Linked DNA regions of Homo sapiens. The protein of the gene in region 1 interacts with the protein of each later gene in a pairwise test. Each region holds a gene or a part of one and is shown in the gene's direction. Other genes may lie near its edges.

The links.
Region 2: the proteins of CDR2L (region 1) and ZNF35 interact in binary tests that used the Homo sapiens proteins (3 or more experiments, as listed by UniProt).
Region 3: the proteins of CDR2L (region 1) and ZSCAN22 interact in binary tests that used the Homo sapiens proteins (3 or more experiments, as listed by UniProt).
Region 4: the proteins of CDR2L (region 1) and TBRG4 interact in binary tests that used the Homo sapiens proteins (3 or more experiments, as listed by UniProt).
Region 5: the proteins of CDR2L (region 1) and SH2D4A interact in binary tests that used the Homo sapiens proteins (3 or more experiments, as listed by UniProt).
Region 6: the proteins of CDR2L (region 1) and KRTAP13-4 interact in binary tests that used the Homo sapiens proteins (3 or more experiments, as listed by UniProt).
Region 7: the proteins of CDR2L (region 1) and EHHADH interact in binary tests that used the Homo sapiens proteins (3 or more experiments, as listed by UniProt).

Annotation. Positions count from the first base shown.
Region 1 is NC_000017.11:75,000,586-75,004,825, forward strand, and holds part of CDR2L (cerebellar degeneration-related protein 2-like), read left to right. Parts: intron 1-755; coding exon 756-904; intron 905-1,478; coding exon 1,479-1,643; intron 1,644-2,597; coding exon 2,598-3,489; 3' UTR 3,490-4,240.
Region 2 is NC_000003.12:44,654,631-44,658,870, forward strand, and holds part of ZNF35 (zinc finger protein 35), read left to right. Parts: intron 1-4,070; coding exon 4,071-4,240. UniProt on the Homo sapiens protein: May be involved in transcriptional regulation. Involved in cell differentiation and/or proliferation.
Region 3 is NC_000019.10:58,339,913-58,343,572, forward strand, and holds the end of ZSCAN22 (zinc finger and SCAN domain-containing protein 22), read left to right. Parts: 3' UTR 1-2,420; downstream 2,421-3,660. UniProt on the Homo sapiens protein: May be involved in transcriptional regulation.
Region 4 is NC_000007.14:45,101,472-45,105,711, reverse strand, and holds part of TBRG4 (FAST kinase domain-containing protein 4), read left to right. Parts: coding exon 1-271; intron 272-669; exon of another isoform or gene 670-806; intron 807-1,002; coding exon 1,003-1,174; intron 1,175-1,229; exon of another isoform or gene 1,230-1,363; intron 1,364-1,455; coding exon 1,456-1,613; intron 1,614-2,268; coding exon 2,269-2,379; intron 2,380-3,220; coding exon 3,221-3,365; intron 3,366-3,641; coding exon 3,642-3,887; intron 3,888-4,097; coding exon 4,098-4,209; intron 4,210-4,240. UniProt on the Homo sapiens protein: Plays a role in processing of mitochondrial RNA precursors and in stabilization of a subset of mature mitochondrial RNA species, such as MT-CO1, MT-CO2, MT-CYB, MT-CO3, MT-ND3, MT-ND5 and MT-ATP8/6. May play a role in cell cycle progression.
Region 5 is NC_000008.11:19,319,940-19,324,179, forward strand, and holds part of SH2D4A (SH2 domain-containing protein 4A), read left to right. Parts: intron 1-4,240. UniProt on the Homo sapiens protein: Inhibits estrogen-induced cell proliferation by competing with PLCG for binding to ESR1, blocking the effect of estrogen on PLCG and repressing estrogen-induced proliferation. May play a role in T-cell development and function.
Region 6 is NC_000021.9:30,428,452-30,431,770, forward strand, and holds KRTAP13-4 (keratin-associated protein 13-4), read left to right. Parts: upstream 1-1,768; 5' UTR 1,769-1,824; coding exon 1,825-2,307; 3' UTR 2,308-2,575; downstream 2,576-3,319. UniProt on the Homo sapiens protein: In the hair cortex, hair keratin intermediate filaments are embedded in an interfilamentous matrix, consisting of hair keratin-associated proteins (KRTAP), which are essential for the formation of a rigid and resistant hair shaft through their extensive disulfide bond cross-linking with abundant cysteine residues of hair keratins.
Region 7 is NC_000003.12:185,205,309-185,209,548, reverse strand, and holds part of EHHADH (peroxisomal bifunctional enzyme), read left to right. Parts: intron 1-4,240. UniProt on the Homo sapiens protein: Peroxisomal trifunctional enzyme possessing 2-enoyl-CoA hydratase, 3-hydroxyacyl-CoA dehydrogenase, and delta 3, delta 2-enoyl-CoA isomerase activities. Catalyzes two of the four reactions of the long chain fatty acids peroxisomal beta-oxidation pathway.

The DNA of each region.
Region 1 (4,240 bases):
TCACGCCGGGCATAAAAAAGATTTTAGAAGTTAAAAAAAAAAAAAAAGGCCGGGCACAGTGGCTCACACCTGTAATCCTAGCACTTTGAGAGGCCAAGGCGGGCAGATCACGAGGTCAGGAGATCGAGACCATCCTGGCTAACACGGTGAAACCCCATCTCTACTAAAAATGCAAAAAATTAGCCAGGCATGGTGGTGGGCACCAGTAGTCCCAGCTACTCAGGAGGCTGAGGCAGGAGAATGGTTGGCGTGAACCCAAGAGGTGGAGCTTGCAGTGAGCCGATGTCGCGCCACTGCACTCCAGCCTGGGCGAGAGAGCAAGACTCCGTCTCAAAAAAAATAAATTAATTAATTTAAAAAAAAAAGAGGCTGGCGTGGTGGTGCATGCCTATAATCCCAGCCCTTTGGGAGGCAGAGGTAGGCAGATCACTTGAGGTCAGGAGTTCAAGACCAACCTGGCCAATATAGTGAAACCCTGTCTCTACTAAAAATACCAAAATTAGCCAGGCATGGTGGCAGGCACCTATAGTTCCAGCTACTCAGGAGGCTGAAGCATGAAAATCACTTGAACCCAGGAGGCAGAGGTTGCAGTAAGCCGAAATCATGCCACTGCACTTCAGCCTGGGCAACACAGTGAGACTCTGTATCAAAAGAAAAGAAAAGAAAAAAGACAAAAAAAGAAGTAGGAGGGTCTAGGCAGAGACATTTGCCCCTGCCCAATTCTAAAAAGTTACTCAATGTCCTTCCACCCCCAGTACCTAACCAAGCAGCTGGACACGCTGCGGCACGTGAACGAGCAGCACGCCAAAGTCTATGAGCAGCTGGACCTGACAGCCCGGGACCTGGAGCTGACCAACCACAGGCTGGTGCTGGAGAGTAAGGCTGCCCAGCAGAAGATCCATGGGTGAGGGCCCGGCTGAGGGCTGGGGGGCGGGCGAGGGAGAGCCCCAGGGCTGAGTGTACACAGGGGCCCATGGACTGATGGGTGTGACTTGTGCACGTCTCCCTAGGAACCGGGGATGGGAGTGAGCTTGTCCTTGTCGATTTTGTGTGGTTTAACATTCAGGCCGCAACCTTGCTTTAAGCACCAACTATGCACCAGGCTCTTCTTTAGACACTGGGGATGCAACGATGGGGAAACAAAGACATTGTCCTGCCCTCTAATACCTCACAGCCTGGAAGAGAAGGCAGGCATGTAAATATTTTATGGCAGTGCAGGACAATAAGTGATAGAGGAGTGACAAGGAACTGAGGTGGCACAGAGGAGAAGCGATCAGCTCGCCTGAGAGGTACAAAAGAAGGGCGGGTCCTTGGGCATGCATAGAATTCCCCATCCTACCTCAGGACCAGACAGCGGCTCAAGGGTACCTGTCTGCCTCCTACCCAACGTCCCTCCATCTTCAGGGAGCCAGGGCTGCCGTGAGGCAAACTGGCCCCATCCCCTTAAAGTCCCTGTGTGTCCACCACCCCGCCCCCAGGCTGACGGAGACCATTGAGCGCCTCCAGGCTCAGGTGGAGGAGCTGCAGGCCCAGGTGGAGCAACTGAGAGGCCTGGAACAGCTGCGAGTGCTCCGGGAGAAGCGGGAACGCAGGCGTACCATCCACACCTTCCCCTGCCTCAAGGAGCTGTGCACCAGCCCCCGGTAGGTGAGAGCACTGCTTGGTGTCTCTGGGATTGCCAGCCATGGGAGGAAGGAGAGGCAGCAGGCAGCAGGGTGCAGTTGGTGCATCATCCAGGCCATCAGAGAGACTGGTCCTGTTGCTAATGACAGTCACAGCAGCTGGCGTTTACTGAGCCCTGGCTGTGTGCTGCCACTATGCTGATATAATTCTTATTGCAACACTGTTGGGGGTGTTTTATTATGCCTACTCTCCAGATGATAAAACTGAAGCCCAGAGGTTGTGTGTCTTATCCAAGGTCACCTGTTTAGTAAGAGGCTCAGCCAGCATGCTAACCCAGGAGGGGTAACCCACTGTGCTTTTCAGTTCCCATTAAATCTAACACTAGACAACCACTTAATAATGGAAAAATACATGTGTCATATGTAGTGGGTGTTTCAATAAGGGTCCTGGCAGGAAACAGTCTCTTACACAGAGTAATGGAGAAGTTAAATGAAGAAGAGGTGTGGGCAGGGGGTAGGGAAACCACAGGGACACTATAGTGCCCCAGGGTTGCAGCAGAGAGGAGCTGCCACCAGCCCTAGGCCTCAAAGCGCAAGGGGGAAGGGAGGTTACCGGCACCTGGAAGGTATGGAGAAGGCTGCCTGGTCACCATTAACCATGGAGAGCCCAAAGAAGACACACCCCACGGCCTCTGCTCCCCCCTCGGACCTCTAGCCAGTGCCTCTCATGGGCCAAGCTCAGGAGAGAACCAGGCAACCTGACAGAGGCGGTCCGTAGTGGTCAGCCTCCGGGGGCAGAGAGCAGGGGGAGAAGGGTGGAGGAGGGTGGAGAGCCAACGGAGAGGGGCAAACAATTTCAGCCCAGAGAACAAGAGAGATGTAAGCGCCCTGGCTGGGCTGCTCGGCCTTGGCCGTGCCCGTGACCACTGCCCTCTCCTCCGCCCCCACCCCGCTGCGACTCTCACTACCCGCCAGGTGCAAGGATGCTTTCCGCCTACACAGTTCCTCCCTGGAGCTGGGCCCGCGGCCCCTGGAGCAGGAGAACGAGCGGCTGCAGACCCTGGTGGGGGCGCTGCGCTCCCAGGTGAGCCAGGAGCGGCAGCGCAAGGAGCGGGCGGAGCGCGAGTACACCGCGGTGCTGCAGGAGTACTCGGAGCTGGAGCGCCAGCTGTGCGAGATGGAGGCCTGTCGCCTGCGTGTGCAGGAGCTGGAGGCCGAGCTGCTGGAGCTGCAGCAGATGAAGCAGGCCAAGACCTACCTACTGGGTCCGGACGACCACCTGGCCGAGGCCCTGCTCGCACCCCTCACGCAGGCCCCTGAGGCCGACGATCCCCAGCCCGGCCGCGGGGACGACTTGGGCGCCCAGGACGGGGTCTCCTCACCGGCAGCCTCTCCAGGCCACGTGGTGCGCAAGAGCTGCAGCGACACTGCGCTCAACGCCATCGTGGCCAAAGACCCAGCCAGCCGGCACGCGGGCAACCTCACACTGCACGCCAACAGCGTGCGCAAGCGGGGCATGTCCATCCTGCGGGAGGTGGACGAGCAGTACCACGCGCTGCTGGAGAAGTACGAGGAGCTGCTGAGCAAGTGCCGGCAGCACGGGGCCGGAGTGCGGCACGCCGGCGTGCAGACCTCGCGCCCCATCTCCCGGGACAGCTCGTGGAGGGACCTGCGCGGGGGTGAGGAGGGCCAGGGTGAGGTCAAGGCAGGAGAGAAGAGCCTGAGCCAGCACGTGGAGGCCGTGGACAAGCGGCTGGAACAGAGCCAGCCCGAGTACAAGGCGCTCTTCAAAGAGATCTTCTCCAGGATCCAGAAGACCAAGGCTGACATCAACGCCACCAAAGTCAAGACGCACAGCAGCAAGTGACCCTTCTCCGGCCTGCAGCCTCCCCCAGGGTGGAAGCCGTGGGGTCCCTCAGGCCTGGGCGGTGCAGCTTCCAGAGAGCGAGCGCCCTTTAGCGGCCTGCCACCACAGCACGCGGCCTCCTGATCCGGAAGCACGCAGCATGTTCCCTGCTGAGCGGAGGCAGCCCACCTGTCCTGCCTCCCAGGAGCCCTTGGCCACCTCGCGCCAGCCCAAAGGCGCAGCTCTGAGTTCAAAGCCAAATGTCCCCACTACCCCAGGGATCCCCCAGCTCCCCCAGCCCCTGGCTTCCTGACCCTGCGCCTCACCCTCAGACTGGTGACCAGGCTTCTGAAAGCCATTCTGGATCAGTTGGCTTTTTTTTTTTTTTTGGTTAAGTTTGTTTTTTCTAAGAGATTTGCAATGCAAGGTCTCCTTGACCCCTTGCCACAACTGGAAACACTTGAAAGGGGACCCCAGGGCCAGCTGTTTCAGGGGTTTCCTGGACCACCCACTGCTTCTCCCCAACCCTGATGCGCTGACATTCCCTTAGCACCAGCTGTCCCACCTCCAGGGTCCTGACCAGGTCAGAGATGTCCCCTGCCATGCAGAGCAGGAAGCCTCAGCTGGGCCTGGAGTGTCCCTGCTCCAGCCCTGCCAGGGACAGGTTTCTCCCTGGATACTCTTGGCCCACCGCAGATCTGTAGCCAGTCAGAGGAGGAGGAGAAGGAGCCCCTCAGCAGAGTGGTGCAGTTTCGCTCAGAGCTTGTCTCCT
Region 2 (4,240 bases), on another chromosome or scaffold:
ATGTCTGAGCAAGTTTTAACTGTAGTTTTCATATTTTAATTAATGTTGAATTTATTAAAGTTTATTCATTTAAAAACCAATTTTTAAGCCATTAAGCATAACTTTTTACTTCATCCATACATCTAGAAATATTTGTATAAAAGTGAGAACATTTGTATTTTTTCTTTAACTTATGTTCAGTTAAGCTTCAAATTTTACAGATTAAATTTTTTAAACATTTTGGCCGGGCGCAGTGGCTCAAGCCTGTAATCCTAGCACTTTGGGAGGCGGAGGCGGGTGAATCACCTGATATCAGGAGTTCGAGACCAGCCTGGCCAACATGGTGAAACCCTGTCTCTACTAAAAATTCAAAAATTAGCCAGGCATGGTGGTGCGTGCCTATAGTCCCAGCTACTTGGGAAGCTGAAGCAGGAGAATCGCTTGAACCCGGGAGACAGAGGTTGCAGTGAGCCAAGATTGCACCACTGCACTCCAGCCTGGGCAATAGAGCAAGACTCTGTCTAAAAAAATAAATTAATTAAAAATTTTAAACATTTAATTCTACCTGCTTATCAAATTTCTTTATATAAAACATAATTACAAATTTGATATCTTTAGTTCTTTAAAACATTCCAAACACCTAACTGGGCAGACTTACAAATCTTGTAAATAAAATCTTGATAAACACAGCTGTTATAAATCTAATGAATTGGACTTATAAATTTAGTAAATCAAATTACCCTTCTTATCTCAGAATACAGTCACCAGCTAAGGTGGCAGGCTTATGTAGCATTTCAGCTATCTTTAAAAAAAAAAAAAGAGTGAAAGAAGAGTATTGATTTAAAAACTATGGCTATGCCTGTGTTCTAGTTGGTCACAAATTAGTTTTTGTTTTAGTTTTTCATTATTTCTGTACTTAATTTAATTTCTCTAGAGCTACAGTAATCCTACATGTTTTTTAAAAAAAGGAAAAATACCATTTCAAATAAGCCAAGGTTATACGCCCGGATTATTTGCTGATTAATCTTTTTACCCAAAGAAATTTGAACTTGACTATACCAGATGGACCCTAATTCTCTTTTCTTAGGCACTTGCCAAGACCCCAGGTCTTACTTTACTCAGTGATGAATCACTTGCATGAAAACCTTCTAGGCTACAGTTGCACCTGGTTTTGTAATGGTTTTGACATGAGACATTATTCAGATAGAAGGAATTGTTTCCGTTATTGGCTCTAATCAGTTTAGTAGTTCCCATTGATCTTCATGCCCAACATTCTAAATCTCCCAGTAAGGAGGGTAGGAGTGAAAGTCAGGGAGACAGTGCAGCTATGAACTAAAGTTTTCATGGGCTCTGTTTCTGTTGGAGAGATGCCCAGCTGGGGTATGGGAGGCCCACGTGTCAGTGATGGGGAGTTAAAGCAAAAGAGGAGGTGAAAAGAATCAAGGGAGGAGACGTTGGATGGGAGGAGAATAAAGTGGGATGTAGGTGATAAAGTAACAGTAGAGAACACAAAGAGAAGCAAGCAGTCAGCAAAAGAAAAACAGAAGAGGCATGAAACTGTATATGGAAAAATTCAAAATATTTCACACAAAAAATTAAAAAACAGGAGAGGAGAGAGATGAAGAGTCAGTAGGGGGTCGAGATAGCAGGAAAAAATAAGCAGCAGCAGAAGAAAAGATATAAAAGCAAGTGAACTACAGAGAGAAAAACAGAACATTTTTAAAAAGAGGGAGCTAGCAGAACAGTAGGAATAGAAATAACCAGAAAAAGTTTAGCATTTCAGATTTTTTTTTTTTTTTTGAGATGAGTTTCGCTCTGCTGCCCAGGCTGGAGTGCAGTGGCACGATTTCGGCTAACTGCAACCTCTGCCTCCTGGGTTCAATTGATTCTTACGCCTCAGCCTCCAGAGCAGTTGGGATTACAGGTGCCTGCCACAACACCCACCTATTTTTTTTGTATTTTTCCTAGAGACGGGGTTTCACCATGTTGGCCAGGCTGGTCTCGAACTCCTGACCTCAGGTGATCCACCCGTTTCAGCCTCCCAAAGTGGTGGGATTACATGAGCCACTGCACCCGGCTTTTTTTTTTTTTTTTCTTTGAGATAGAGTCTTGCTTTGTCTGGCCCAGGCTGGAGTGCAAGTGCAGTGGTGCAGTCTCAGCTCAGTACAGCCTCCACCTCCCAAGTTCAAGTGATTATCCTGTCTCAGCCTCCCAAGTAGCTGGGACTACAGGCATGCACCACCACACCTGGCTAATTTTGTATTTTTAGTAGAGACGGGGTTTCACCATGTTGGCCAGGCCGTTCTCAAACTCCTGACCTCAGGTGATCTGCCTGCCTCAGCCTCCCGAAGTGCTGGGGTTACAGGCATCAGCCACTGTGCCTGGCCAGCATTTCAGATATTTATTGTTTGTCATATCTGGGGCTCTACTGTATCCAGCACTTGGGCATTTCTTTCCTCTGACACTGCTCATCTTGTCTGAATGATTGTGATAGAATTTCAGATTACCATAGTCTTAACCAGGCAATCAAACCAGGCTGTTTTCCTGCCCCCAATATTGCTTTGTACCACCCCAACATCCTTGTCCCACCCACTCATATCATTGGTTGGATGGTCATCCTATAGAATATTTCCCTCTCATGGGTGCTAGTCTCTCCCCTGCGCAGTAGCAGCAGTTATAACCTGAAGCTCACAGCACCACTGCTTATTTCTGAGCTGACATCACCAGTGGGAATACCTCCCTCCTCTACAGGCTTGCCACCCATTCCTGTTACCCTTTATTTCACTTGCCTTATTTCTTGAGCTTGGTTTAATTGACAAACACTTCTTAAGGGTTCACTGTGCCAAAACTGGATTACATGGGTGCACATTTCAAGGTTAAGGAAAGTGAGTGTGCAGAGGAGACAAACATAAAGAACTATGATGTTACTGATAGCAGGACCCCTTTTTGACACCATTAGGTTCTGAAGCAATGTAAAGCATCCAGAGACTAATCAGTGTCATAAAGCTTCAGGGTGTTTTGAAGTTCTCATGATATTTTCTGGCATTGTGGAGCAGGCTATGCCATAACTCAACAAGGTCAGCTTTCCTTGACACAATGCTAAGCTGTTCCCCTGACACAAGGGTAAGAGTTTGCCATGTACAGTTTCTTTTTTTATTCTCCTAGTGTAGCTGTCTATCACCATAGCAGCTCCCCTCCCCTAAGGGTTCATCTTTCCTTCTGGCCCCTCACAACATCATCAGTCAGCCTGAAAGTTGCTGCACACATTCAGAGCACTGACTGTATTCCAGGCAATATCTGAGTAGTTGACATAGAGTAACTCCATTAATCTACTCATGGCCTTATGAGGTAGATACTATTAGTATCCCTGTTTTAGAGATTGGGAAACTGAGGCACACAGGAGTTAAGTAGCCCAAAGTCATGGAGCTAGTTAGTGTCAGAGCAGAGATTTGAAACCAGGCAGTCTAGCTCTAGAATCCATGTTCTTAACCTGTATGCTGCAGGACCTCGCAGTGTTTCATATGGTTTTGGCTGCTGTGGCTGTCTTGGCAGCCAGTGTTACCCTTTCTGTCCGTGCTTATCCTTTCTTTGATATCCAGCATCCTCAGACACAGAAACCTCAGTTGCTAGATCTTTGTTTACAGGTAGCAAATCACCCTAATTAACTGGTGGGTTGCAAGCAAATCCACACTAAGTAGCTAAGGTAAGAAGGCAAGCCTAGGGAGAGGCTTGTGTCCTTCATAACTGGTCTTTGTTGCAAGGGCAGTCATCATACAGCCAGCAGGAGCACTGTCTGGAGATTGGCCCTCCCTGGCATGAGGCAGCGGGCAGCGGGGTTAAGTGTCTAATGGAGGCAAGTGGAAGTGCTGGAAAGACCACGAGTCAGTGGGTTCTGCCATAGGTAGAGGGGAGGGCAAAGCCCCAGCTGAAGAACCTAGAGAGGAGAGGTAACATGTGATGGGATTCTCTTCTTTGATGAAGCCATTTTGTGGAGGTGCTGAAATCACATACTTCGTTTTATGACTTGATGATCCTATTCTTTTTCTAGGCCAGAGAAAGCTAACATTTGTATTTTCTGTTTCTTGGTTCAGGTGCTGAAACCAAGAACCTACAGTTACTGGTTCCAAAAACTGAGATATGTGAGGAAGCTGAAAAACCCCTCATCATATCAGAAAGAATCCAGAAAGCTGATCCTCAAGGACCTGAGTTAGGAGAAGCTTGTGAAAAGGGAAACATGTTAAAGAGGCAGAGAATAAAGAGA
Region 3 (3,660 bases), on another chromosome or scaffold:
TGCTGCTTGACACCTGCCCAGCATGTTCCTGTCTCTCCTTTTCCTTCCACATCCCACCAGTCACCAGCGCTATTGTTTTAACCTAAAGCTTATCTGTAATTCACCTCCTTTTCCACCACTGCTACCTTATGTGAGCCCTCATTGCCTCTTGCCTGGATTATAGCCGGGGTCTCCTTCCTGACCACTTCCTGCCTTTATTCTCTGCCCCTGTATCACTCTCCAGGGGACTCTTGATATTACTTAGATCTGACTGTGTCACTCCAAGGTGGAAAGCTCTCCAACCCATCTTCTACAGCACAGCTTCCTGAACAGGGTATAAGTATGCTGAGATGCAGGCTGCTCTGGGCCCCGAGCAACCTCTCCAGTTATCCTCATATGCATGTATGAATACTGTCATTTTTCTGTGCGTGCAGTGAAAATGGCCTCATCTCATACCATGGCTCCACCTTCCATACACCAGCCACACGGAACTACTGTGGTCCCTGAAGGAGCCATACATTTTCCCACTTATGTGCCTTTGTACCTGTGCCTGGAACCCTCCTCTTCTTTTTCTTTTTCTTTTCTTTTCTTTTTTTTTTTTTGAGATGGAGTCTCGCTCTGTCGCCCAGGCTGGAGTGCAGTGGCGCGATCTCGGCTCACTGCAAGCTCTGCCTCCCGGGTTCATGCCATTCTCCTGCCTCAGCCTCCCAAGTAGCTGGGACTACAGGCGCCTGCCACCACGCCCAGCTAGTTTTTTTTTTTTTTTGTATTTTTAGTAGAGATGGAGTTTCACCATGTTAGCCAGGATGGTCTCGATCTCCTGACCTCGTGATCCACCCGCCTCGGCCTCCCAAAGTGCTGGGATTACAGGCGTGAGCCACCGCACCTGGCCCTCCTTTTTCATCTAAGGTGTTTCAAATGTTGCCCAAAGAAACCTCCCTGCTCTCCGGGAGCAGACTTCAGCTTGCCCTCTCTGCTTCCAGAGCACCTCCTAGATACCTCTCTTACAACTCCTGCCACCTTGTTTTACTTATTTGCTCCTTGTAGAGCTGCCTTTTCCAAGGATACCATAAACTCCTGAGAGCAGGGGCCATGTCTTACTCTCAGTATCTACAACACACAAGACTCAGTAGGCCCTGACTGATGTCTCTTACATGAATGTGACTGGTGCCCCCAGGAGGCAGTCACCGTGCTGTCTCTGCCCCACATTGTCCTTATGTATGTTTACATGGATGTCTCCCCAGCAGCTTGAACCCTGGAGAGCAAGAATAATCTGATTTTCCTGGGGGCCAGCACCCAAATAAGCCTGGCATGCAGTGGCCTCAATAAAATGTGACTGTATTGAGTCATTTTCTAGGGCCCCAGATCCCCTGGTGTCATGGACTTAGTCTTTGCCAGCATTCTGTCCATGTGTTCTCTGGTCTTCTCTCACAATGCTGCATCCCTGTCCCATTTTTAGGGTCCCTGTCTATCACTGGATGCTGCAGCTTCTGTTCATTACTGTTAGTGTATCATTCTTCATGCCTCTGTTTCTGTGATGGTCTCATCATATGTGAACCATTTGACCTGGCGTATTGTGTACTAGTCACCGTCACCATCTCTCCATATGTATCTCCCTGTATTTCGGGCCCATTCCCTCTATGTCAAGAGTAAATAGAGGCACAGAGACTGATGAGAAACGTTCATAACATGAAGGTAAGACTCAGGGAGACAGAGACTTTGTGGAAGTATCTCTGAGGGAGTCCCAGACACAGGCAGAGAGGGCCACATATCGTGTGCCAGAGGCTGAGAGACTGAGAGGGATGACAGGCTTAGGGGAAAACTCAGAGAGGAGAGATGCACATTCCTAGTGAAATTGCACAGGCTTCCAGCATGCTGGAGGGAACAGAAAAGGCATGGGCCTGAATTCAGGCTGCAGAGCCTGACTCCTCCCTGTGGCTACTTTTGGGACCTAAGATAAGTGACTTTCCTGAACCTCCATGACCTCCTCATATGTAAACCAGGGACAGGACCCACCTTGTGTAGTGCCTGACCCAAAGCCTGGCCCTGCACACTGTCTCTGACTCACAGCAATCATCAGCACCTCTCTTTGCCTCCTACTTGCTCAGTCTCTGTCACAAGAACTGGATCTCCATCCCCTTGATGCTCTGAGCATCTTCACCCATTTGGTCGTTGAGACATATCTGTCCATGTCTGTCTAAAAGGGGAGGAGATGAGGGAGAAAAAAGGGAATCTACTCAGAGCCTGTGTGTGCTGCCCAGTCTACCAAATAATTTATATACATCTCAGTCCTCACACAACCATCCCTGTTTTATAGAGGAGGAAGTGGCTTAGAGAATGTAACTGACCAAAGTCACACTGCCAGGAACTGGAAGCACTAGGATTTGACAGCATATCCAAATATGTCAGCAATTTCAATAAACATGACTGTACTCAACAAACCAAGTGTAAAGACAAATTCTAACAGACTGAATTTCTTTTTGGACCAGCCATATGTTCTTTAGAAAAGATACACCTAAAACAAGGATATGGGAAGTTGAGGGCAAAGGGATAGAAAAGGATATACAAGGTAGGCATGAAACTGAAGAAAGCTGATGGAGCTGCATTAGTCGCGCAAAACAGACATTAAGGTATAAAAGCATTTTAAGAATCATGGGGTCACTATGTTTTTATAAAAGAAACAATCTATTAGGAAGATGTAATAGTTCAAAACCAGGCACATAATATGAGTCTTGTAGAACAGAATCACAGTGAGAAACTGACGAAACCTTAAGTGTACTTGGAAGTGCTAACACGTTCTTTATGATAGAAAACATTTGAAGAGGCCGGGTGCGGTGGCTCCCACCTGTAATCCCAGCACTTTGGGAGGCCAAGACAGGCGGATCACGAGGTCAGGAGTGCGAGGCAAGCCTGGGCAACATAGTGAAACTGTCTACAAAAAATACGAAAATTAGCCAGCCTGGGCCGGGCACAGTGGATCACACGTAATTCCAGCACTTTGGGAGGCCAAGACAGGCAGGTCACGAGGTCAGGAGATTGAGATCATCCTGGCTAATATGGTGTGTAACCCCTTCTCTACTAAAAATACAAAAAATTGGCCAGGCACGGTGGCTCACGCCTGTAATCCCAGCACTTTGGGAGGCCAAGGCAGGCGGATCACGAGGTCAGGAGTTCGAGACCAGCCTGACCAGCGTGGTGACACCCCGTCTCTACTAAAAATACAAAAAATTAGCTGGATGTGGTGGTGTGTACCTGTAATCCCAGCTACTAAGGAGGCTGAGGCAGGAGAATCGCTTGAACCCAGGAGGCGGAGGTTGCGGTGAGCCAAGATCACACCATTGCGCTCCAGCCTGGGCAACAGAGCGAGACTCTGTCTCAAAAAAAAAAAAAAAAAAAAGCCAGGCATGGCGGCACACGCCTGTAGATCCAGCTAATCAGGAGGCTGAGGCAGGAGAATTGCTTGAACCTGGGAGGCAGAGGTTGCAGTGAGCCGAGATTGGGTGACTTCACTCCAGCCTCGACAACAGAGTGAGACTCTGTCTCAAAAAAAAAAAAAAAAAGGCTGGGCACAGTGGCTCACACCTGTAATCCCAGCACTTTGGGACGCCGAGGTGGGTGGATCACCTGAGTTCACGAGTTTGCGACCAGCCTGGCCAACATGGTGAAACCCCGTGTCTACAA
Region 4 (4,240 bases), on another chromosome or scaffold:
TCTGGGCATCCCCAAGGCCTCCAAGGAGCTGCAGTCGGTGGAGCAGGAGGTCCGCTGGCGCATGCGGAAGCTCAAGTACAAGCACCTGGCCTTCCTGGCAGAGTCCTGTGCCACCCTCTCACAGGAGCAGCACTCGCAGGAGCTGCTGGCTGAGCTGCTCACACACCTGGAAAGGCGTTGGACAGAAATTGAAGATTCCCACACATTAGTGACCGTCATGATGAAGGTGGGACACCTCTCGGAGCCACTAATGAACCGCCTGGAAGACAAGGTACTGGGCCTGAAAGCAGGTGGCACCCAGCCTGCCTCCCCTGGGCTTTGGGCTTGTTCTTTGGGTGACAGTTGTCTGCAGAGGGGTGCGTTGTGTGCACTGGGATCAGAGCCCTGGGAGCTTCTGTCTGGAGCCTCAGGCATCACATGGGGCAGGACCAGAGGGCTCGGAGCTGCAACAGGTGGTTGCCCTGTGGCTGCATTCATCAAGCACCACTTGCTCCTCCCAACACAGGCGCTTCCCTGATTGCACCTTTATCTTTCCCCCAAACCCCATCACAGCACGATCTTGAGAGGGGGGCATGGCAGGCAGCTCCTGAAGTAACACAGCTACTGCCCAGGCCTGGCTTCTGGCTAGAACTCTCCTGGAGATGTGCTAACCCCTATCGGCTGTAGCCCTGCAGTCAAGTCAAATTCAGTGCCCGTTTCTGTCATAGCGGGGGCTGGCCCAGATGGCTGCCACAGCAAGCTCCACAGCTCATGGGCCCTGGGTCACCTACCCTGGGACCTGGGGATAAGTTTGGCTGTGGACAGTGCTCCAGGTCCAGGGGTTCCCTGGGGTGGATGAGGAGGCAGGCCCTGCACAGTGGTCCTGTGTTTAGTCAGCTCAGGCCCAGTCTGACAGGGGCTGTCACAGGGGCTGCACTGGATGGGACCATGGGACCCCTGCCCCCAGCTCATCTCTGCCACCCCAGGCCATTGAGCTGACCTCTGCGCGGCTGTGGTTGACAGTGCCTGGAGTTGGTGGAGCACTTTGGCCCCAATGAGCTGCGGAAGGTGCTGGTGATGCTGGCAGCTCAGAGCCGGCGGTCCGTGCCCTTGCTGCGGGCCATCTCCTACCACCTGGTGCAGAAGCCCTTCTCTCTGACGAAAGATGTGCTCTTGGACGTGGCCTATGCCTATGGTGAGCCCTTTGGACAGAACGGTGGAGAGAGGGGAGCGCTGGCCCTGCAGATGCCTGCAGCCGTGTCAAATTCAGTACCTGTCCTATGCATGGTAGGCACTGGCCCAGAAGGCTGCCACAGAAACACTGTGACTCATGGGCCCTGTTCCTGTGTCCCAGGCTCAGGGATAAATTTGGTTACAGACATCAAATATCTAGACCTCGAGGCTGAGGTGGGGTGGAGCTGCTGGGTGATTGCTGACTCTCTCCAGCTAAACCCTGTGATCTGCTCTGTCCTGAAGGCAAACTCAGCTTTCACCAGACCCAGGTGTCCCAGCGCCTGGCCACCGACCTGCTATCCCTCATGCCCAGCCTGACTTCTGGTGAGGTGGCCCACTGTGCCAAGTCCTTCGCCTTACTCAAGTGGCTCAGCCTGCCCCTGTTTGAGGCCTTTGCCCAGGTGAGCCAGGGCCTGGCCCCAACTCAGAGAAGCTGGCTTCCTGGCCATCTGCTGGGAACCATTGCCTTAGTCGGGAAAGTAAAGCCAGTCTGAAAATGCTCACTTGTGGGGGCAAATACATATTTCTTGCATTTTGGCTTATTTTGAAAGGGCTGCTATTCAGTTCTCAAAAAAGTGTTTGAGAACTGTTTCCTCTGTTCTTTCACTGACCATTATAAGTGCTTCCATCCATTTTGGGGTAGCTGTAGCAGGTAGCAGCATGGCTGATGAGACTGAGAATCCACTGAGAACTGTCTACTGAATCACTGATCCCCCTCGCAAAGTGGAACTGTACAGAAAGATGACACCTGCAGTTACGTTTATGTGTGACCAGTCTAAACTAAGTTTACTGGTTGGAGAATATTTCTAAATCCCTTATCAGAAAGAAGCAGCTTCTAGGTGTCCCCAGCCTCTGTGGGTAGTTGCTGCCAGGCGAAGGAGTGTCTGGGCCTGTGTAAGTCCTTCTCTGTTCCCGACACAGCTCATGGGCCCTGGATGGAGGGTCCTGCCATTGCCCCTGGCCATGCAGGCTCTCCTCAGACTCAGAGCCAGGCAGGAGGACAGCGTGCTGGGCAGAGAGCTTATTCTGTCCCTCTGCTATTTCTGACCCACCCAGCACGTCCTGAACAGAGCGCAGGACATCACCCTGCCCCACCTGTGCAGCGTACTTCTGGCTTTTGCGCGTCTGAACTTCCATCCAGACCAAGAGGATCAGTTCTTCAGCCTGGTAGGGCCTCTGGGCTCCCACTGCTCGACCTTTATCCTCCCCTTCAGCTAATGGCTCATGAACCGTCCTCCCAAGATCAGCTCGGGCTAGGTGGAGGCGGGAGGGGCCACTATGTGTGGCATGGGAGGGCAGGGGGAACTGATTGGAGCCAGGCATCCTAGGGATTACTGAGAACACATGAAATCCTGCTGTCTGGTTGACTGCCCTGCCAGGCAGCGCTGGGGGGTCCTGCCTCTGGTGCTCCTTTTAATGCCCTGTTGATGCTCAGAAGCTCCAGTGGGCCTTCGTGCTATGTGCACCAGCTCAGGGCAGGAGGGGGAGCCTTCTTTATGAAGACCTTAGGACAGCCACAGAGGCCAGCAGGCCAGGTGTGATCCCAGGCTCCCTGGGATTCCATCAGGGGTTTGTCTGGCACAGTCCTGAGAACAATTAGCCAGGGGCTGGGGAGTGCTGCTTCACCTCTTGGATGCTCTCATCTCTCAGAGGACCAGAGATTCCTCCTTCCTTGTCCCAGGTGCTCACTTGGAGACATTATGGGAGAAGGGATCTTGTTCCCTGCCAGTAGGTTGGTTGTAGTAAACCTAATCAAATGCCAGCATTCAGCAGCACTCTTCTGCTGTTCAGAGTGGTCTTGGGGCATGAGGAAGATTCCTGGTACCTTCAAGCCCAGGATTGCTCCAGGCCTCACCAAGGGCCAGGGTTCTGCCTCTTGTTACCTAGTAGCCTCCTCTGGCCTCATCCCAACCAGGCCAAGACCACATCATGGATTGTGTCTCACCCATGGCTATTTGCAGCCCCTAAGGAGAGCCTGCTTTCTCCACCACACTCTATCCTTGCCCAGGTACATGAGAAGCTGGGGTCAGAGCTGCCAGGCCTGGAGCCAGCCCTGCAGGTGGACCTGGTGTGGGCCCTGTGTGTGCTGCAGCAGGCACGGGAAGCAGAGCTGCAAGCCGTCCTCCACCCTGAATTTCACATCCAATTTCTAGGTGAGCCCCCTGCCCCTAGTACTACTGGAACTGGGAAACTGCCTGGTCTTGTCTGCCTAGTGCCAGGTGAGAATTTGGGGCAGATGGAGGCCAGGGCTCTCCCTCCCCCTCGCTCTCCATCCTCTCCCTGTAGGTGGCCAGCAGACCGTAACTCTGCTGCCTCCTGACCCAGAAAACTGGGCTGGGACTGGGTGTAGGGGTGCACTGCCCTCTCATCAGGGTCTCCCCATCTCTGGCCGTAGGCCCACCTCCCTCTTCTTTCTCCTTGTCTCCTAGGGGGCAAGTCTCAGAAGGATCAGAACACCTTCCAGAAGCTGCTCCACATCAACGCCACTGCCCTGCTGGAGTACCCCGAGTACTCGGGTCCCCTTCTGCCTGCCTCGGCTGTGGCCCCTGGGCCCTCAGCCCTTGACAGGAAGGTGACCCCCCTGCAAAAGGAGCTGCAGGAGACGCTGAAGGGGCTGCTGGGGAGCGCCGACAAGGGCAGCCTCGAGGTGGCCACGCAGTATGGCTGGGTGCTGGGTGAGGGCTCCCCCTGGTTGGCACAGGGCCTGGCATTGCCTGAGTCTAACGGGACTCTTCTAACCCACCCCGTCTGCAGCAAGTACTGACCTAGGGAGCTGCAGGGTGTCAGCCTGGGCTCCCCACAGTCCCATCTTTGTTCATCTTTCCTGTGGGGGGGTTTCTGAGGGATGTCCCCCAACATGTTCTCATCCCACACCCCTTCCCCAGATGCTGAGGTGCTGCTGGACAGTGACGGCGAGTTTCTGCCCGTAAGGGACTTTGTGGCACCTCACCTTGCCCAGCCAACTGGGAGCCAGTCACCACCTCCAGGGTCTAAGAGGTAGGTGGCCAGGGACCTGTTGGCCATGGGG
Region 5 (4,240 bases), on another chromosome or scaffold:
GAAATCTTTTACTTGAAACCAGACTAACCTGAAGCTGTATTAAAAAGTCACCTATGAGGTTTGATTTGAGGGGTATTAAGAAAGGTTTCTATCTCCTTTATTGTTACTGGTTCCTAATATGCTACTACTAGAACACAAAGTTCTTGTGTCAGTATATTTATAGCAATTGTGTTTGCATTTCTTAGACCTCAGAGATTTTTCTTTGAGGTATCTTTTTAGGGAACACCTCCTGTTAAAATGTAAGGAATTGCTATAAGGAAAAAAATCATAATACTATCTTTTTTTAGTGTGAATGAGTTTCTCAGATGTAAACTTTTCCTCGTTATCAAAGGAATCTCTGGTAGTTTGAGAGGGTTCTTTTGAGACCATGGGGGAGGAAATCTTTGTACATTAAGACTTAAAGCAGACAAGGTGCAGTGGCTCATGCCTGTCATTGCAGCACTTTGGGTGGCCGAGGTAGGAGGATCACTTGAGTCCAGGAGTTCTGACCAGCCTGGAAATATAGTGAGACCTTTTCTTTAGGAAAAATAAAAAATTAGCTGGGCATGGTGGTACATGCCTATAGTCCCAACTACTTGGGAGGCTGAGGTGGTGTAATTGCTTGAGCTCAGGAGATCGAGGCCACACTGAACTGAAATCACACCTCTGCACTCCACCCTGGGTGACAGAGTGAGACTGTGTGTCAAAAAAAAAAAAAAAAAAAAAAAGACTTAAAGCATATACACATACAGACACAGAAAAATACACATTGTCCACCCTCCTCACTCCGTTCTCACTAACCCCCACACCCCCGCCTTGCTGTTTACATGCGAAGTCTGTCATGGGTGAATACCAAAGTTGTGAAAACACAGCACACTTTTCAAGGTCACTTGCAGAGGCATCTAAGACCGTCTCTTTTCATGTTTCATTAAACCAGGAAAATAAAATTTTGTAAAATCACATATGGTTTCAAAGATTGAGAAAATGAATCTCTCTTGCATCCCTGGTATATGCCCAGGTTCACAAAGGAGGTCAGTGTAGCGTCCTTTACTTTTTACTGTCTTTTATTAAAACTTTTTTCCAGTGATGCCTTTATCATGACAAGGAAATAAACAGAAATATGTCATTTCCTCTTGTTATGATCAATACAACTATTTATGAAACACCTCCTGTTTCAGACACTATGTGAAGCACATTTATGCATATAATGCCTAACCTTCACAAAACTTCTGCAAAGTCAGCAGTGACAGTCCTGTTTTACAGATGATGAGACTTAGAGAAGTTCATTTTTTTTTTTGCTTGTTTGTTTGTTTGAGATGGAGTCTCACTCTGTCGCCCTGGTTGGAGTGCAGTGGTACAATCTTGGCTCAATGCAACCTTCGTCTCCCGGGTTCAAGCAATTCTCCTGCCTCAGCCTCCCAAGTAGCTGGGATTACAGGCATGTGCCACCACACCCAGCTAATTTTTGAATTTTTAGTAGAGGTGGGGTTTCTCCATGTTGGCCAGGCTGGTCTTGAACCCCAGACCTCAAACGATCTGCCCACCTGGGCCTCCCAAAGTGCTGGGATTACAGGCCTGAGCCACTGAAGCTGGCCATGAAACTTAGATAAGTTGAGTAATATATGCAAGGTTATACCACCAATAGATGCCCAGTTCTGTTGGATTTTACATTATTCTGCACTATCCAAAATACAACTTTTCCTCCAACAAATAACATGGCCAAACTGAAACATAACTCTTTTTCTTTCTAAACTGGTTTATGCACCTTCTTGGATTCCCCAGTCAGAGTTTTTCAGATATAATTGGGTCTCTTCTGGGCACCATGTTCACTGTGAACATAACATATATTAGTGTGATGGGGTGACCTTGGGGACTAGCAGCCAAAGGGTTCTTGCCACTAGAGTCAATGGCCCAGACTCTGTTAGACTTTGGGTTTCTCGTGTTTGCTGAATTGGTCTCCTTGTGATGACTTAAAATAATAATTTCAGTTTCTTTGCTTACATTTCTCGCTTGTAGGGTTTTGAATCTACCTCTCAGAAACCCTGTGTTAACTTTGTTAGTCAAATGATCATGAGAAAAGTATGTTAATATAAGTGGGGAAAGTTCTATCAATATCTCACGTCAAAAGTGTATTACTCCCTTAAATTGAAAACTTGGAAAAATATATTTTGCATTAAATTAGTTCCTCTTCTGACTACAGAAAGGGAAAAAGTTACTCCCACTTCCCCTAAAATCCCATCACTTCTCTTTCATCTTGCGCTGTCTTTGAAGATAAAGCCATAGACCGTCCAAAGCAATGCTGTCATGGCTGGTGCTGCCAGAGGTGCTTATCTGTGCTGCAGACCTGCTAAGCCCATGACCCTTGTGGGTTGACAGGTCACTCGTGCATCTGATCCCTGAAGGCTTGTGCTCCCTGCCTCCCCTTCTCCCGCCTTTCTGGTTAGTACTGAGCTAAGTGCTGCTTTTTCTTAGCAGTTCTTAGCCACACGGTGGTTTTGAAGGTTGTTCATTTCATTAAAAACATCATAGGCCACCCCTGCCATTCCTTGACCCCCTCTAGCTTATCACTTAGAAGTTCCTTCATTGTCATCTGGTCATTTTTCACTACGAATACACAGACCCCTGTGCTTAGTGTTTGGGGATCATCACTAAAATTGTTGTGTATTGTGCATCACAGAAACTTGTCTATTATTCTTTTTTTTTTTTTTTTTTTTTAAAGACAGAGTCTTGCTCTGTCTCCCAAGCTGCAGTGCAGTGGTGTGAGATTTCAACTCACTGCAACCTCTGTCTCCCTAGCTGCAGTGCAGTGGTGTGACATTTCAACTCACTGCAACCTCTGCCTCCCAGGTTCAAGCGATTCTCCTGCCTCAGCCTCCTGAGTGACTAGCTGGGATTATAAGCACCTGCTACCATGCCCAGCTAATTTTTGTATTTTCAGTAGAGACAGGGTTTCACCATGTTGGCCAGCCTGGTCTTGAACTCCTGACCTCAAGTGATCCACCCACCTCCGCCTCCCAAAGTGCTGGGATTACACGCATGACCCACCGTGCCCGACTTGTCTACTTGTTAGTAATCTGAAGGCTGAAGTAGAAGGGGCTGAAAAACTATCAGCATGTGAATTTAACTTAGTACTATATGAGAAGATCATTTCTGATTTCTGTAGTGGGAGAATGTGATACTTAGGGAGAGACGTATGGATCTACTCTGCTTGCTGGGGTAGCTAGAGGTCTACAGCCGCACCGTCCAGTGCAGTCACCACAAGCCACATGTGGCTCTTGAGCACAGGAAATGAGGCTAGTCTGGATTGAGGTGTGCTATACATGTAAACTACCGGATTTCAAAGACTTGGTAGAAGGAAAAGATAATGCCACATTAATAATTGTATATTCCTTATATATGGAACTGATGATATTTTGTATATCTTGGGTAAAGTAAAATACTTAATTTCACCTGTTCCTTTTGATTTTTTTTTTTTTTTGAGACAGAGTCTCTTGCTCTGTCTCCCAGGTTGGAGTACAGAGGCATGATCTCAGCTCACTGCAACCTCTGCCTCCTAAATTCTAGCGATTCTCCTTTCTCAGCCTCCCAAGTAGTTGGAGTTACAGGTGTGCGCCAGCACACCCAGCTAATTTTTGTATTATTAGTAGAGATGGGGTTTCACCATGTTGGCTAGGCTGGTCTCAAATTCCTGACCTTAGGTGATCCACCTGCCTCGGCCTTCCGAAGGGCTGGGATTACAGGTGTGAGCCAGGGCACCCGGCCTCCTTTTGATTTTTTTAATGTGGCTACTAGAAAAGTGATAGTTATGGATGTGGTACACATTTCTGCATGCTATAATGGTAGCACCAGCCAGCATTCAATACGCTTAACTGGGTATCAGACCCTGAGCATTGAGATTAAGTATATTGTCTCACTAAATAATCACAGCTAAGCCTGAAGTGTGTGTTGCTATTCACTTTTCACAGATGAGGAAAGTCAAGCTCAGGGACGTTCATTAACTTGGCCAGGGCAAACAGTAAGTGACACAGCTGGAATAGATCCTGGGTCTCATTCTCCCAAAGCCAGCACTGTAAACAAATAAACTACACGTAGAGCTTAACTGGAGCTTAATGACAGTGACTTTTGTCTGAAGCTACCTTCACTGGACCTTAATGACAGTGACTTTTATGTGAAGGCGCCTTGCGCACATCTAAAACATGTGCTCGCGTCAGGAATCTGCCACAGAGCCTTCTTCTTGGGTGATTTTATTGGGTAACGCAAA
Region 6 (3,319 bases), on another chromosome or scaffold:
GGATTTTTGAATAAGGAGCCTGGATTAACTGAAGACAAATTCACTAAATCCCTTAGTTTTGCCTGAATAAATTCATGCTCTCCATTTAACTCATAAGTTTTGTATTCAAGATTATTTTAAAGAGTTACATTTGAAACAAAAGAAAATGGGGAAGGAATAGTTTCCAAACCTACTTACTAAGGTACAAGGTTAGGGGAAATCAACTGCCATTGAAAAATAGAAAGTAACTCACTGAATAGATATTTGAATTGGCCATATTTGCTTCTTTCTTCATTCTTCCTTCTGGAAGGCCTATATTAAGTTACTTTTCAATATTGCCATACATTTTAATTGAGAAAATTTAATCGAGAAAATGTCTAACATTATTGTTGTAAGTTTATTATATTTTATTATAAAATAAAATGTCATCAACCATGACAGTACACTTTCTTTGGTCCTGAATATAATTTAACTACTTGTATTTCAACATAGAATATTTTGTGAATGAACTTACAAAGTGGCTATCCTCAAAGAATACGACAAAGCTGTCCAATTTTTATTTTTCAACATGGAATCTATAATTCAGCAGAGGCAAACAAACACATGAACAAAACATAAAATATAACAAGTAAAAAAAAGAAAAAAGATAAAATCAAACTTAAGCACAGAAAAAAGAAAGAAAAATAGAGGGAAAGAAAGTCAGAGGAAGAGAGAGAGAAAATAAGAGAGAAACATTCATATACCATGCAGAGGAAAAGAGGACTGGGGAACAAAGAAACTTCACATTTTCACAGGAAAATGTAGGATGGTACCTGGTTCTACAAGTGGCAAAAAGACACTGAAAGCCAGTAATATGGAAAGCTAGAGCCATTCTAAGAAGGTAGAAGTCCTGTATAATTACAAAAGTAGATGATAAATATATCAAAGTTCATAAGATTTGCTAATTTTGAAAATTTTTGCTCATAAAGACATTGAGACAAGACACATGACAGCTGGAATGCAATAGGAAAAAAAATTCTGAAATTCCTGAGCTTTCTCTTTGTTTCTCTTTCACTTGTTTCCTCCCTTCAGCAGACAAGCATTCGGGCTCTTTGGCTGAAGAGACATGACCTCAAATTGATCTTCTCTGTGACTGTGTTTCAATCGAGCTTCTTTTTGTTATCTCGTCTTTAAATAAATGGCAAGGTTTCTTTCAATTTCTAGCCATTTCTTTCTATCTCTTTGCTTTGCCTGTTCTTGATCTTTCTTCACTGGATATGAGACAGACTTTATAACTGTAGTACTTAATGTATTAATTTACTCTTACCGCCCTAAAAAATCACCACAAAGTAATTTTGGAGTATAGCAATCAATGGTGACAAGATGGATCATTTTCACAAAGGTTCTCATCCAGGTGGAAATTGCACCAGAAAGAAACTAACGTTATCTCATTCCCCACTCTTAAGAGGAAAACATCTACTAGCAAAGCCAGATGTGAATACACAGGAAAAGAGGCAGTTAGCATGTGCCAAAGAAATAGGAAGAGCTTTCCTTGTCATGATGAGCTAGACATTAATATAAAACAGTCATAGCATTTCTGACATAAGTACAGTTCATTGGCTTTGTGCTATAACACGAAAATTATAGCACCCATAAATACAATACATGGAAAACTATTCAAATGCAATTACAGACAAGATTACGCAGTTACACATATGTAAATGAGGGATCACAAATATGTAAAGGATGACCCTGTTGGGCACCACACCTATTGCTGAGAGGATATAAATGCCCTTGTCCAGGATGCGACATTAAAACTCAGAATCTTCTTAGGTACACTCAGCTGAACTCCCATCTCTCATCAGCATGTCCTACAACTGCTGCTCTAGAAACTTCTCCTCCCGCTCCTTTGGGGGCTACCTGTACTACCCAGGCTCCTACCCCAGCAGCCTGGTCTACAGCACTGCCCTCTGCTCTCCCAGCACCTGCCAGCTGCGTTCCTCTCTCTACAGGGACTGTCAGAAGACCTGCTGGGAGCCCGCCAGCTGCCAGAAATCCTGCTACCGCCCCAGGACCTCCATCCTCTGCTGTCCCTGTCAGACGACTTGCTCTGGATCTCTAGGCTTTCGGTCCAGCAGCTGTCGCTCCCAGGGCTATGGATCTAGGTGCTGCTACTCGCTGGGAAATGGATCCAGTGGCTTCAGATTCCTGAAATATGGAGGCTGTGGTTTTCCTTCCCTGAGTTACGGATCCAGATTCTGCTACCCAAACTACTTGGCTTCTGGAGCCTGGCAGTCTTCTTGTTACAGACCAATCTGTGGATCTCGCTTCTATCAATTCACCTGCTAAATTTCTAGATCCTTTTGAGTATTGGGATCAAAGTCTCTACTGAATGCAGCCATTATTTTCATTCTTGCCAGATCCCAATATCTTTTTATTCTTCCACCACCAGCTTCTTGCATGACCAACTTCTGGCAGACTGCGAAATTAATGAGTAACCTAATATTAACTTCTAATATCTTTACCATTGATCGAATATATGCTATCTGATTTTCATCCAAAAACTGTTGAAAATGGAAATTTTAATCTAATAAATGTATGTAATCTGGTACCCAAATATATTGTTCACATTGTTATTATTTTATTATTATTATTTTGCTTACATTTTTGCATTCAAGAATTTGGGAGATTTAAGTAAAAATCAATATGACTGTGTAACTGGATTTGGGGCCCATATAATCTGACAGATCTGAGAACATTTCTCTTGAAATTAGGTATGTTGTCTATTAAGAGTAATCATTTCTGGAAGAACATAGTTTGCATCTGCAGACTTGTCTCAACAGCAGTGAGAATTGTCTAAGAATGAAGGACATGCATTTCTACTGATATAGGAAAGCAGAAAATTTGATGCATAAACTAGAAATGCAGACAACAAGACTAGGATGTAATTTATAAGGTAAACTGTATGCTTGCACTAAAGGTTACTTAAAGTCTAGTATCTGAATGTGGATTTTCAACCAAGAGAAAAGTGAAGCTTAAGCACTGCTAGGACAGACGCTTTGCTCTTTGTTAGTAGACTTAAGTGCCAGGTTTCCTGCCTCCCACTGGTAAGGAGAGTCAGGATCATTCACCAATGATCTTAAGTGGGAATTATTGGGTCCAGGAGGCTTCGGTAACCTACCGATGCTTCTTCAAGGCTCAACCTTAATCAAGCTGACAGCAACACACCTGAGCCATGCTGAACAAGCATTTATATCCATTAGTCTTACTCTGGATCCTCCTCTTCTCCCCAGAACAAGGCTAATGTCAAAGATTTGGGTGCAAACAGTTTATGTGGCACAAGATCCCAGGAAGCAAGTAT
Region 7 (4,240 bases), on another chromosome or scaffold:
TGGTATAAGCCCTGGTAGGCTTTCTGTCTAAATAACTAAGATGTACATTTTTGATAAAATGGTTTTATTTTTTAAGAGATGCCAGTACATTATAGAAAACAACTTCTGGTATAGCTGAAGTTTTGGTAACTGTAAGTTGTTATGAATTTATTATTTTATGAAAACTTTGGAATCATTCTGTAAAGTTATTTTTTAAAATAGTACCATAAGGATTCTTATTAAAATTTCATATATAATACATATGGAAAATATATTTTTATGCTATTAAATATTTATATCCAGAAGCATGGTGCTTTTCTGTTTTTATTAAGGTCTTATTTTATGTTCTTCAATAAAATGGTATAGTTATCTTCTGAAAGGTCTTGTACCTTTCTTGATAAATTCATTTCTAGATACACTTTAACAGTTTTAATGAGGCGTGATTTGCCTTATAGATTGTGCAGCCATCCCCATAAATCAATTTTAAGACTTGTCCACTCCCACAAAAAGTTTCTTCATGCCCATTAACACTAACTCCTACTCACATCCCCAGCCCTAGGCAACCACTGATCTTTCTGTCTCTATAGATTTGCATTTTTTGGACCTTGGATCTAAATGGCATCATACAATATGTAATGTTTTGCATCTGGCTTCTTTTAGTTAGCATAATGTTTCTGAGGCTCATCTGTATCTGTATTGTAGCATGTATCAACAGTTTGATCCTTTTTATTGCTGAATAATATTCTATTGCATGGCTCTATCAAATTTCTTTAGTCATTCAACAGCTGATGGATGTTTGGATTGTTTCCAGATTTTGCTATTATAAATAATGCTGCCATGAATATTTGTAGACAAGTTTTCTTTATGGCATATGCTTTCATTTCTCTTGTGTAGATTCCTGGGAGTGAAATTGCTGGGTTGAACAATCAGTTTATGTTTATCTTTTTAAGAAACAACTAAACTGTTTTCCAAAGCAATGTGCTGTTTTACACTCTCAGAAGCAACGTATGAGGCTTCTGGTTTCTCTACATCATCACCAACATTCAGTAGTGATGGCTTTTTATTATAGTCATTCTAGTAAGTCTAACTGCATAACAAATGACCCCAAAACTTAGTGGCTTAAAATCAAACATTTATTCCACAATTTCTGTGGGTCCAGAATCCAAGTGTCCTAGGTCCTCTGGCTTTCAGATTTCAAACAAAGCTACAATCAAGGTGTTGTCTGTGGCTGTAGTCATCTCAGGTTGATTAGGGGTCAGGGGGAGAATCTGCTTTCAAACTCACTCAAGCGGTTGTTGGTAGGATTCAGTTCCGTATGGGCTGTTGTACTGAGGGCCTCAGTTCCTCACTGACTGTGGGCTGAAAGCCTCCCTCAGTTCTTTGCCACGTGGGCTTCACCATAGGGTGGCTCACAACAGGGCAGCTGGCTTCCATCAGAGTGACCAATTTGAGAGGGCAAGAAAGTATGAGCAAGACTGAAGCCAGAGTCTTTTTGTAACCTAATCTAGAAATGACAGCCCATTACTTAGAGTCTGTCTACCACATTTGTTGCGGTTTTAATTTGCATTTCCTTAATGACTAATGATGTCGAGCATCTTTTTGTGTGCATATTAGCCATTCACATATGCTCCTTGATGAAATAACTGCTCAAGTTTTTGCCCGTTTAAGAAATTACATTGTTTACCTAATTATTGAGTCATAAGAGTTTGTTACATATTCTGGAAACAAGTTCTTTATTTGATATTTGATGTGCCAATTATATTTTCTATTGCTGTGCTAAAAAATTACCACAAGCTTAGCAGTTTAAATCATCCGAAATTATTTTCTTACAGTTGTGTAGACTAGAAGTATTGTAGAGGTCTCCCTGGGCTAAAATCCAGGTGTCAGCTGGTGCACTCTTTTCTGGAGGCTCTAGGGGAGAAACTGTTTCCTGCTTATTTGGGTTGTTGGCAGAACTCAGTACTTTGCATTGTGGGATCAGAGTCCCCATGTTCTTGCTTGCAAACTTGCGACCTTGTAAACCTTAAAGGTCAATCCCAGCTTCTAGAGAACACTGCATTCTTTAGTTCTTGGTCTCCTTTCCTCATATTCAAAGCTACATCAGTGCCAACAGGTCGAGTCCTTTGCATGTTGCATTTCTCTAACCCTTCTTCCTTGTTGAATCCCCCTCACCACAGTCAGGAAAGATTCTCTGCTTTTAAGGACTCATATGATTAGATTGCACTCAATCAGATAACACAGGGTAATATCCCCATCTCAATGTCTAATTTTTTTTTTTTTTTGAAATGGGGTCTCACTCTGTCACCCAGGCTGCAGTGCAGTGGCACGACCTTGGCTCACTCACTGCAACCTCTCAGGCTCAAACGATTCTCCCACTTCAGCCTCCAGAGTAGCTGGGACCACAGGGGTGCGCCACCATGCCCGGCTAATTTTTTGTATTTTTGGTAGAGACAGAGTTTCACCACGTTGCCCAGGTTGGTCTCAACCTCCTGAGCTCAAAGCAATCTGCCCACCTCGGCCTCCCAGAGTACTGGAATTACAGGCGTGGGCTACTGTGCCCAGCCAAGGTCTTTAATCTTACTCTCACCTATACATCTCTTTACCATGTGAGGTTATACATTCACAGATTCTAGGAATTAAGACATGAACATTTGGTGGGGGGGGTGTTATTCTGACTACCACACAAGTATTTTCTTCTAGTTTATGGCTTGTCATTTCATTTTTTTTTTTCTGTTTTTTTTGGAGACAGAGTCTCGCTCTGTCACCCTGGCTGGAGTGCAATGGCATGATCTCGGCTCACTGCAACCTCCACCTCTCAGGTTCTAGCAATTTTCCTGCCTCAGCTTCCCGAGTAGCTGGGATTACAGGTGCACACCACCATGTCCAGCTAATTTTTTGTATTTTAGTAGAGATGGGGTTTCACCATGTTGCCCAGGCTGGTCTCGAACTCCTGAGCTCAGACAATCCACCCGCCTCGGCCTCCCAAAGTGCTAGGATTACAGGCGTGAGCCACTGCACCTGGCTGTCATTTCATTTTCTTATTGATATCCTTTGAAGAACAAAAGTCTTTAATTTTTATGAAGTCTGATTTCTTGTTTCTTTTGTATGTCATGCTTTTGGTGTTGTATCTAAGAATACTTTGCCTAACCCCAAGGTCCTGAAAATTTTTTTATATTTTCTTCTAGGAATTTTTATAGTATTAGTTCTTCAATTTAGATTTGTGATCTGTTTTCAGTTGATTTTTATATATGGTGCTAGGTAAGGACCTAAATTTTTTTTTTTTTTTATTGTTTTTGGCATGTGGATATCCAATTATCCCACTACGATTTGTTGAAAGATTCTCCTTTTGAGGATTTTTTTCTGAACGATTATTATCTAAAGTGTGTTGTTGCTTTAGGGTCACAGTATGCTTGTGTGCATCTGTTACCATGTCACTGTGGTCCTTCGCTGAGTGCCCTTAGGGGACTAGAATCTTTCCAATAAACCACGTTTGAGATCGTATGAGTCAGCGTGCAGTGTAGCCCACACTTGAGAGTGTGGATTTATGTGCACAGTCACTTTGCTCTGGGTGGAAGTAGGTTATAGTTGACTTACTTTCTCGGTGCTTGTTCCTACAGCCCCTCTTTTCATGTGTTGCTCAATCTCCCTATCCCTTCTTGGTGCTTGCACATCTCAGACCCTTTAGCCAGACCCTTTAGCCAAACCCTTGCCAATAACAGTATTTTTGTTCTCAGTTCTGTTCCCTCTGGTTGCGGAGACTTTGAATAAAAATGCACACACCTATTCAGTGGGATTTAGCTGGAAAAGGTGACCTTCCAACCTCACGTCAACTTCTGGCTCCTCAAACAGTAGGTTGGCAGTAAGGCAGGAAAGTTGTTTTCCCATTTCTCACTGAGCAGATTGTGAATATTTCCATATGGATTTTCTGTTGTTAATGTTGCTCCGATTCTTTGTTTTAAAATAAAAATTCTGAATGTGAAAAAAAGAGACTCTCCTTTCTTCCATTGAATTGTTTGGACACCTATGTTGAAAATCATTGGCTATAATTGTAAGAGTTTATTTGTGAACTCTCGATTCTCTTCCATTGATATATATACCTATCCTTGCATCAATACCACGCTGTCTCCTTTTCTAGGTATTTTAAAGTTTTTGTTACTATTAGGAACGGAGTTAAGGTTATTTTGAATCTAAAATATTCACTCAATAATAGACACTAGAGTCTCTACTACAGGGGAAGGGAGGGAGGATGGCAAAGGTTGAA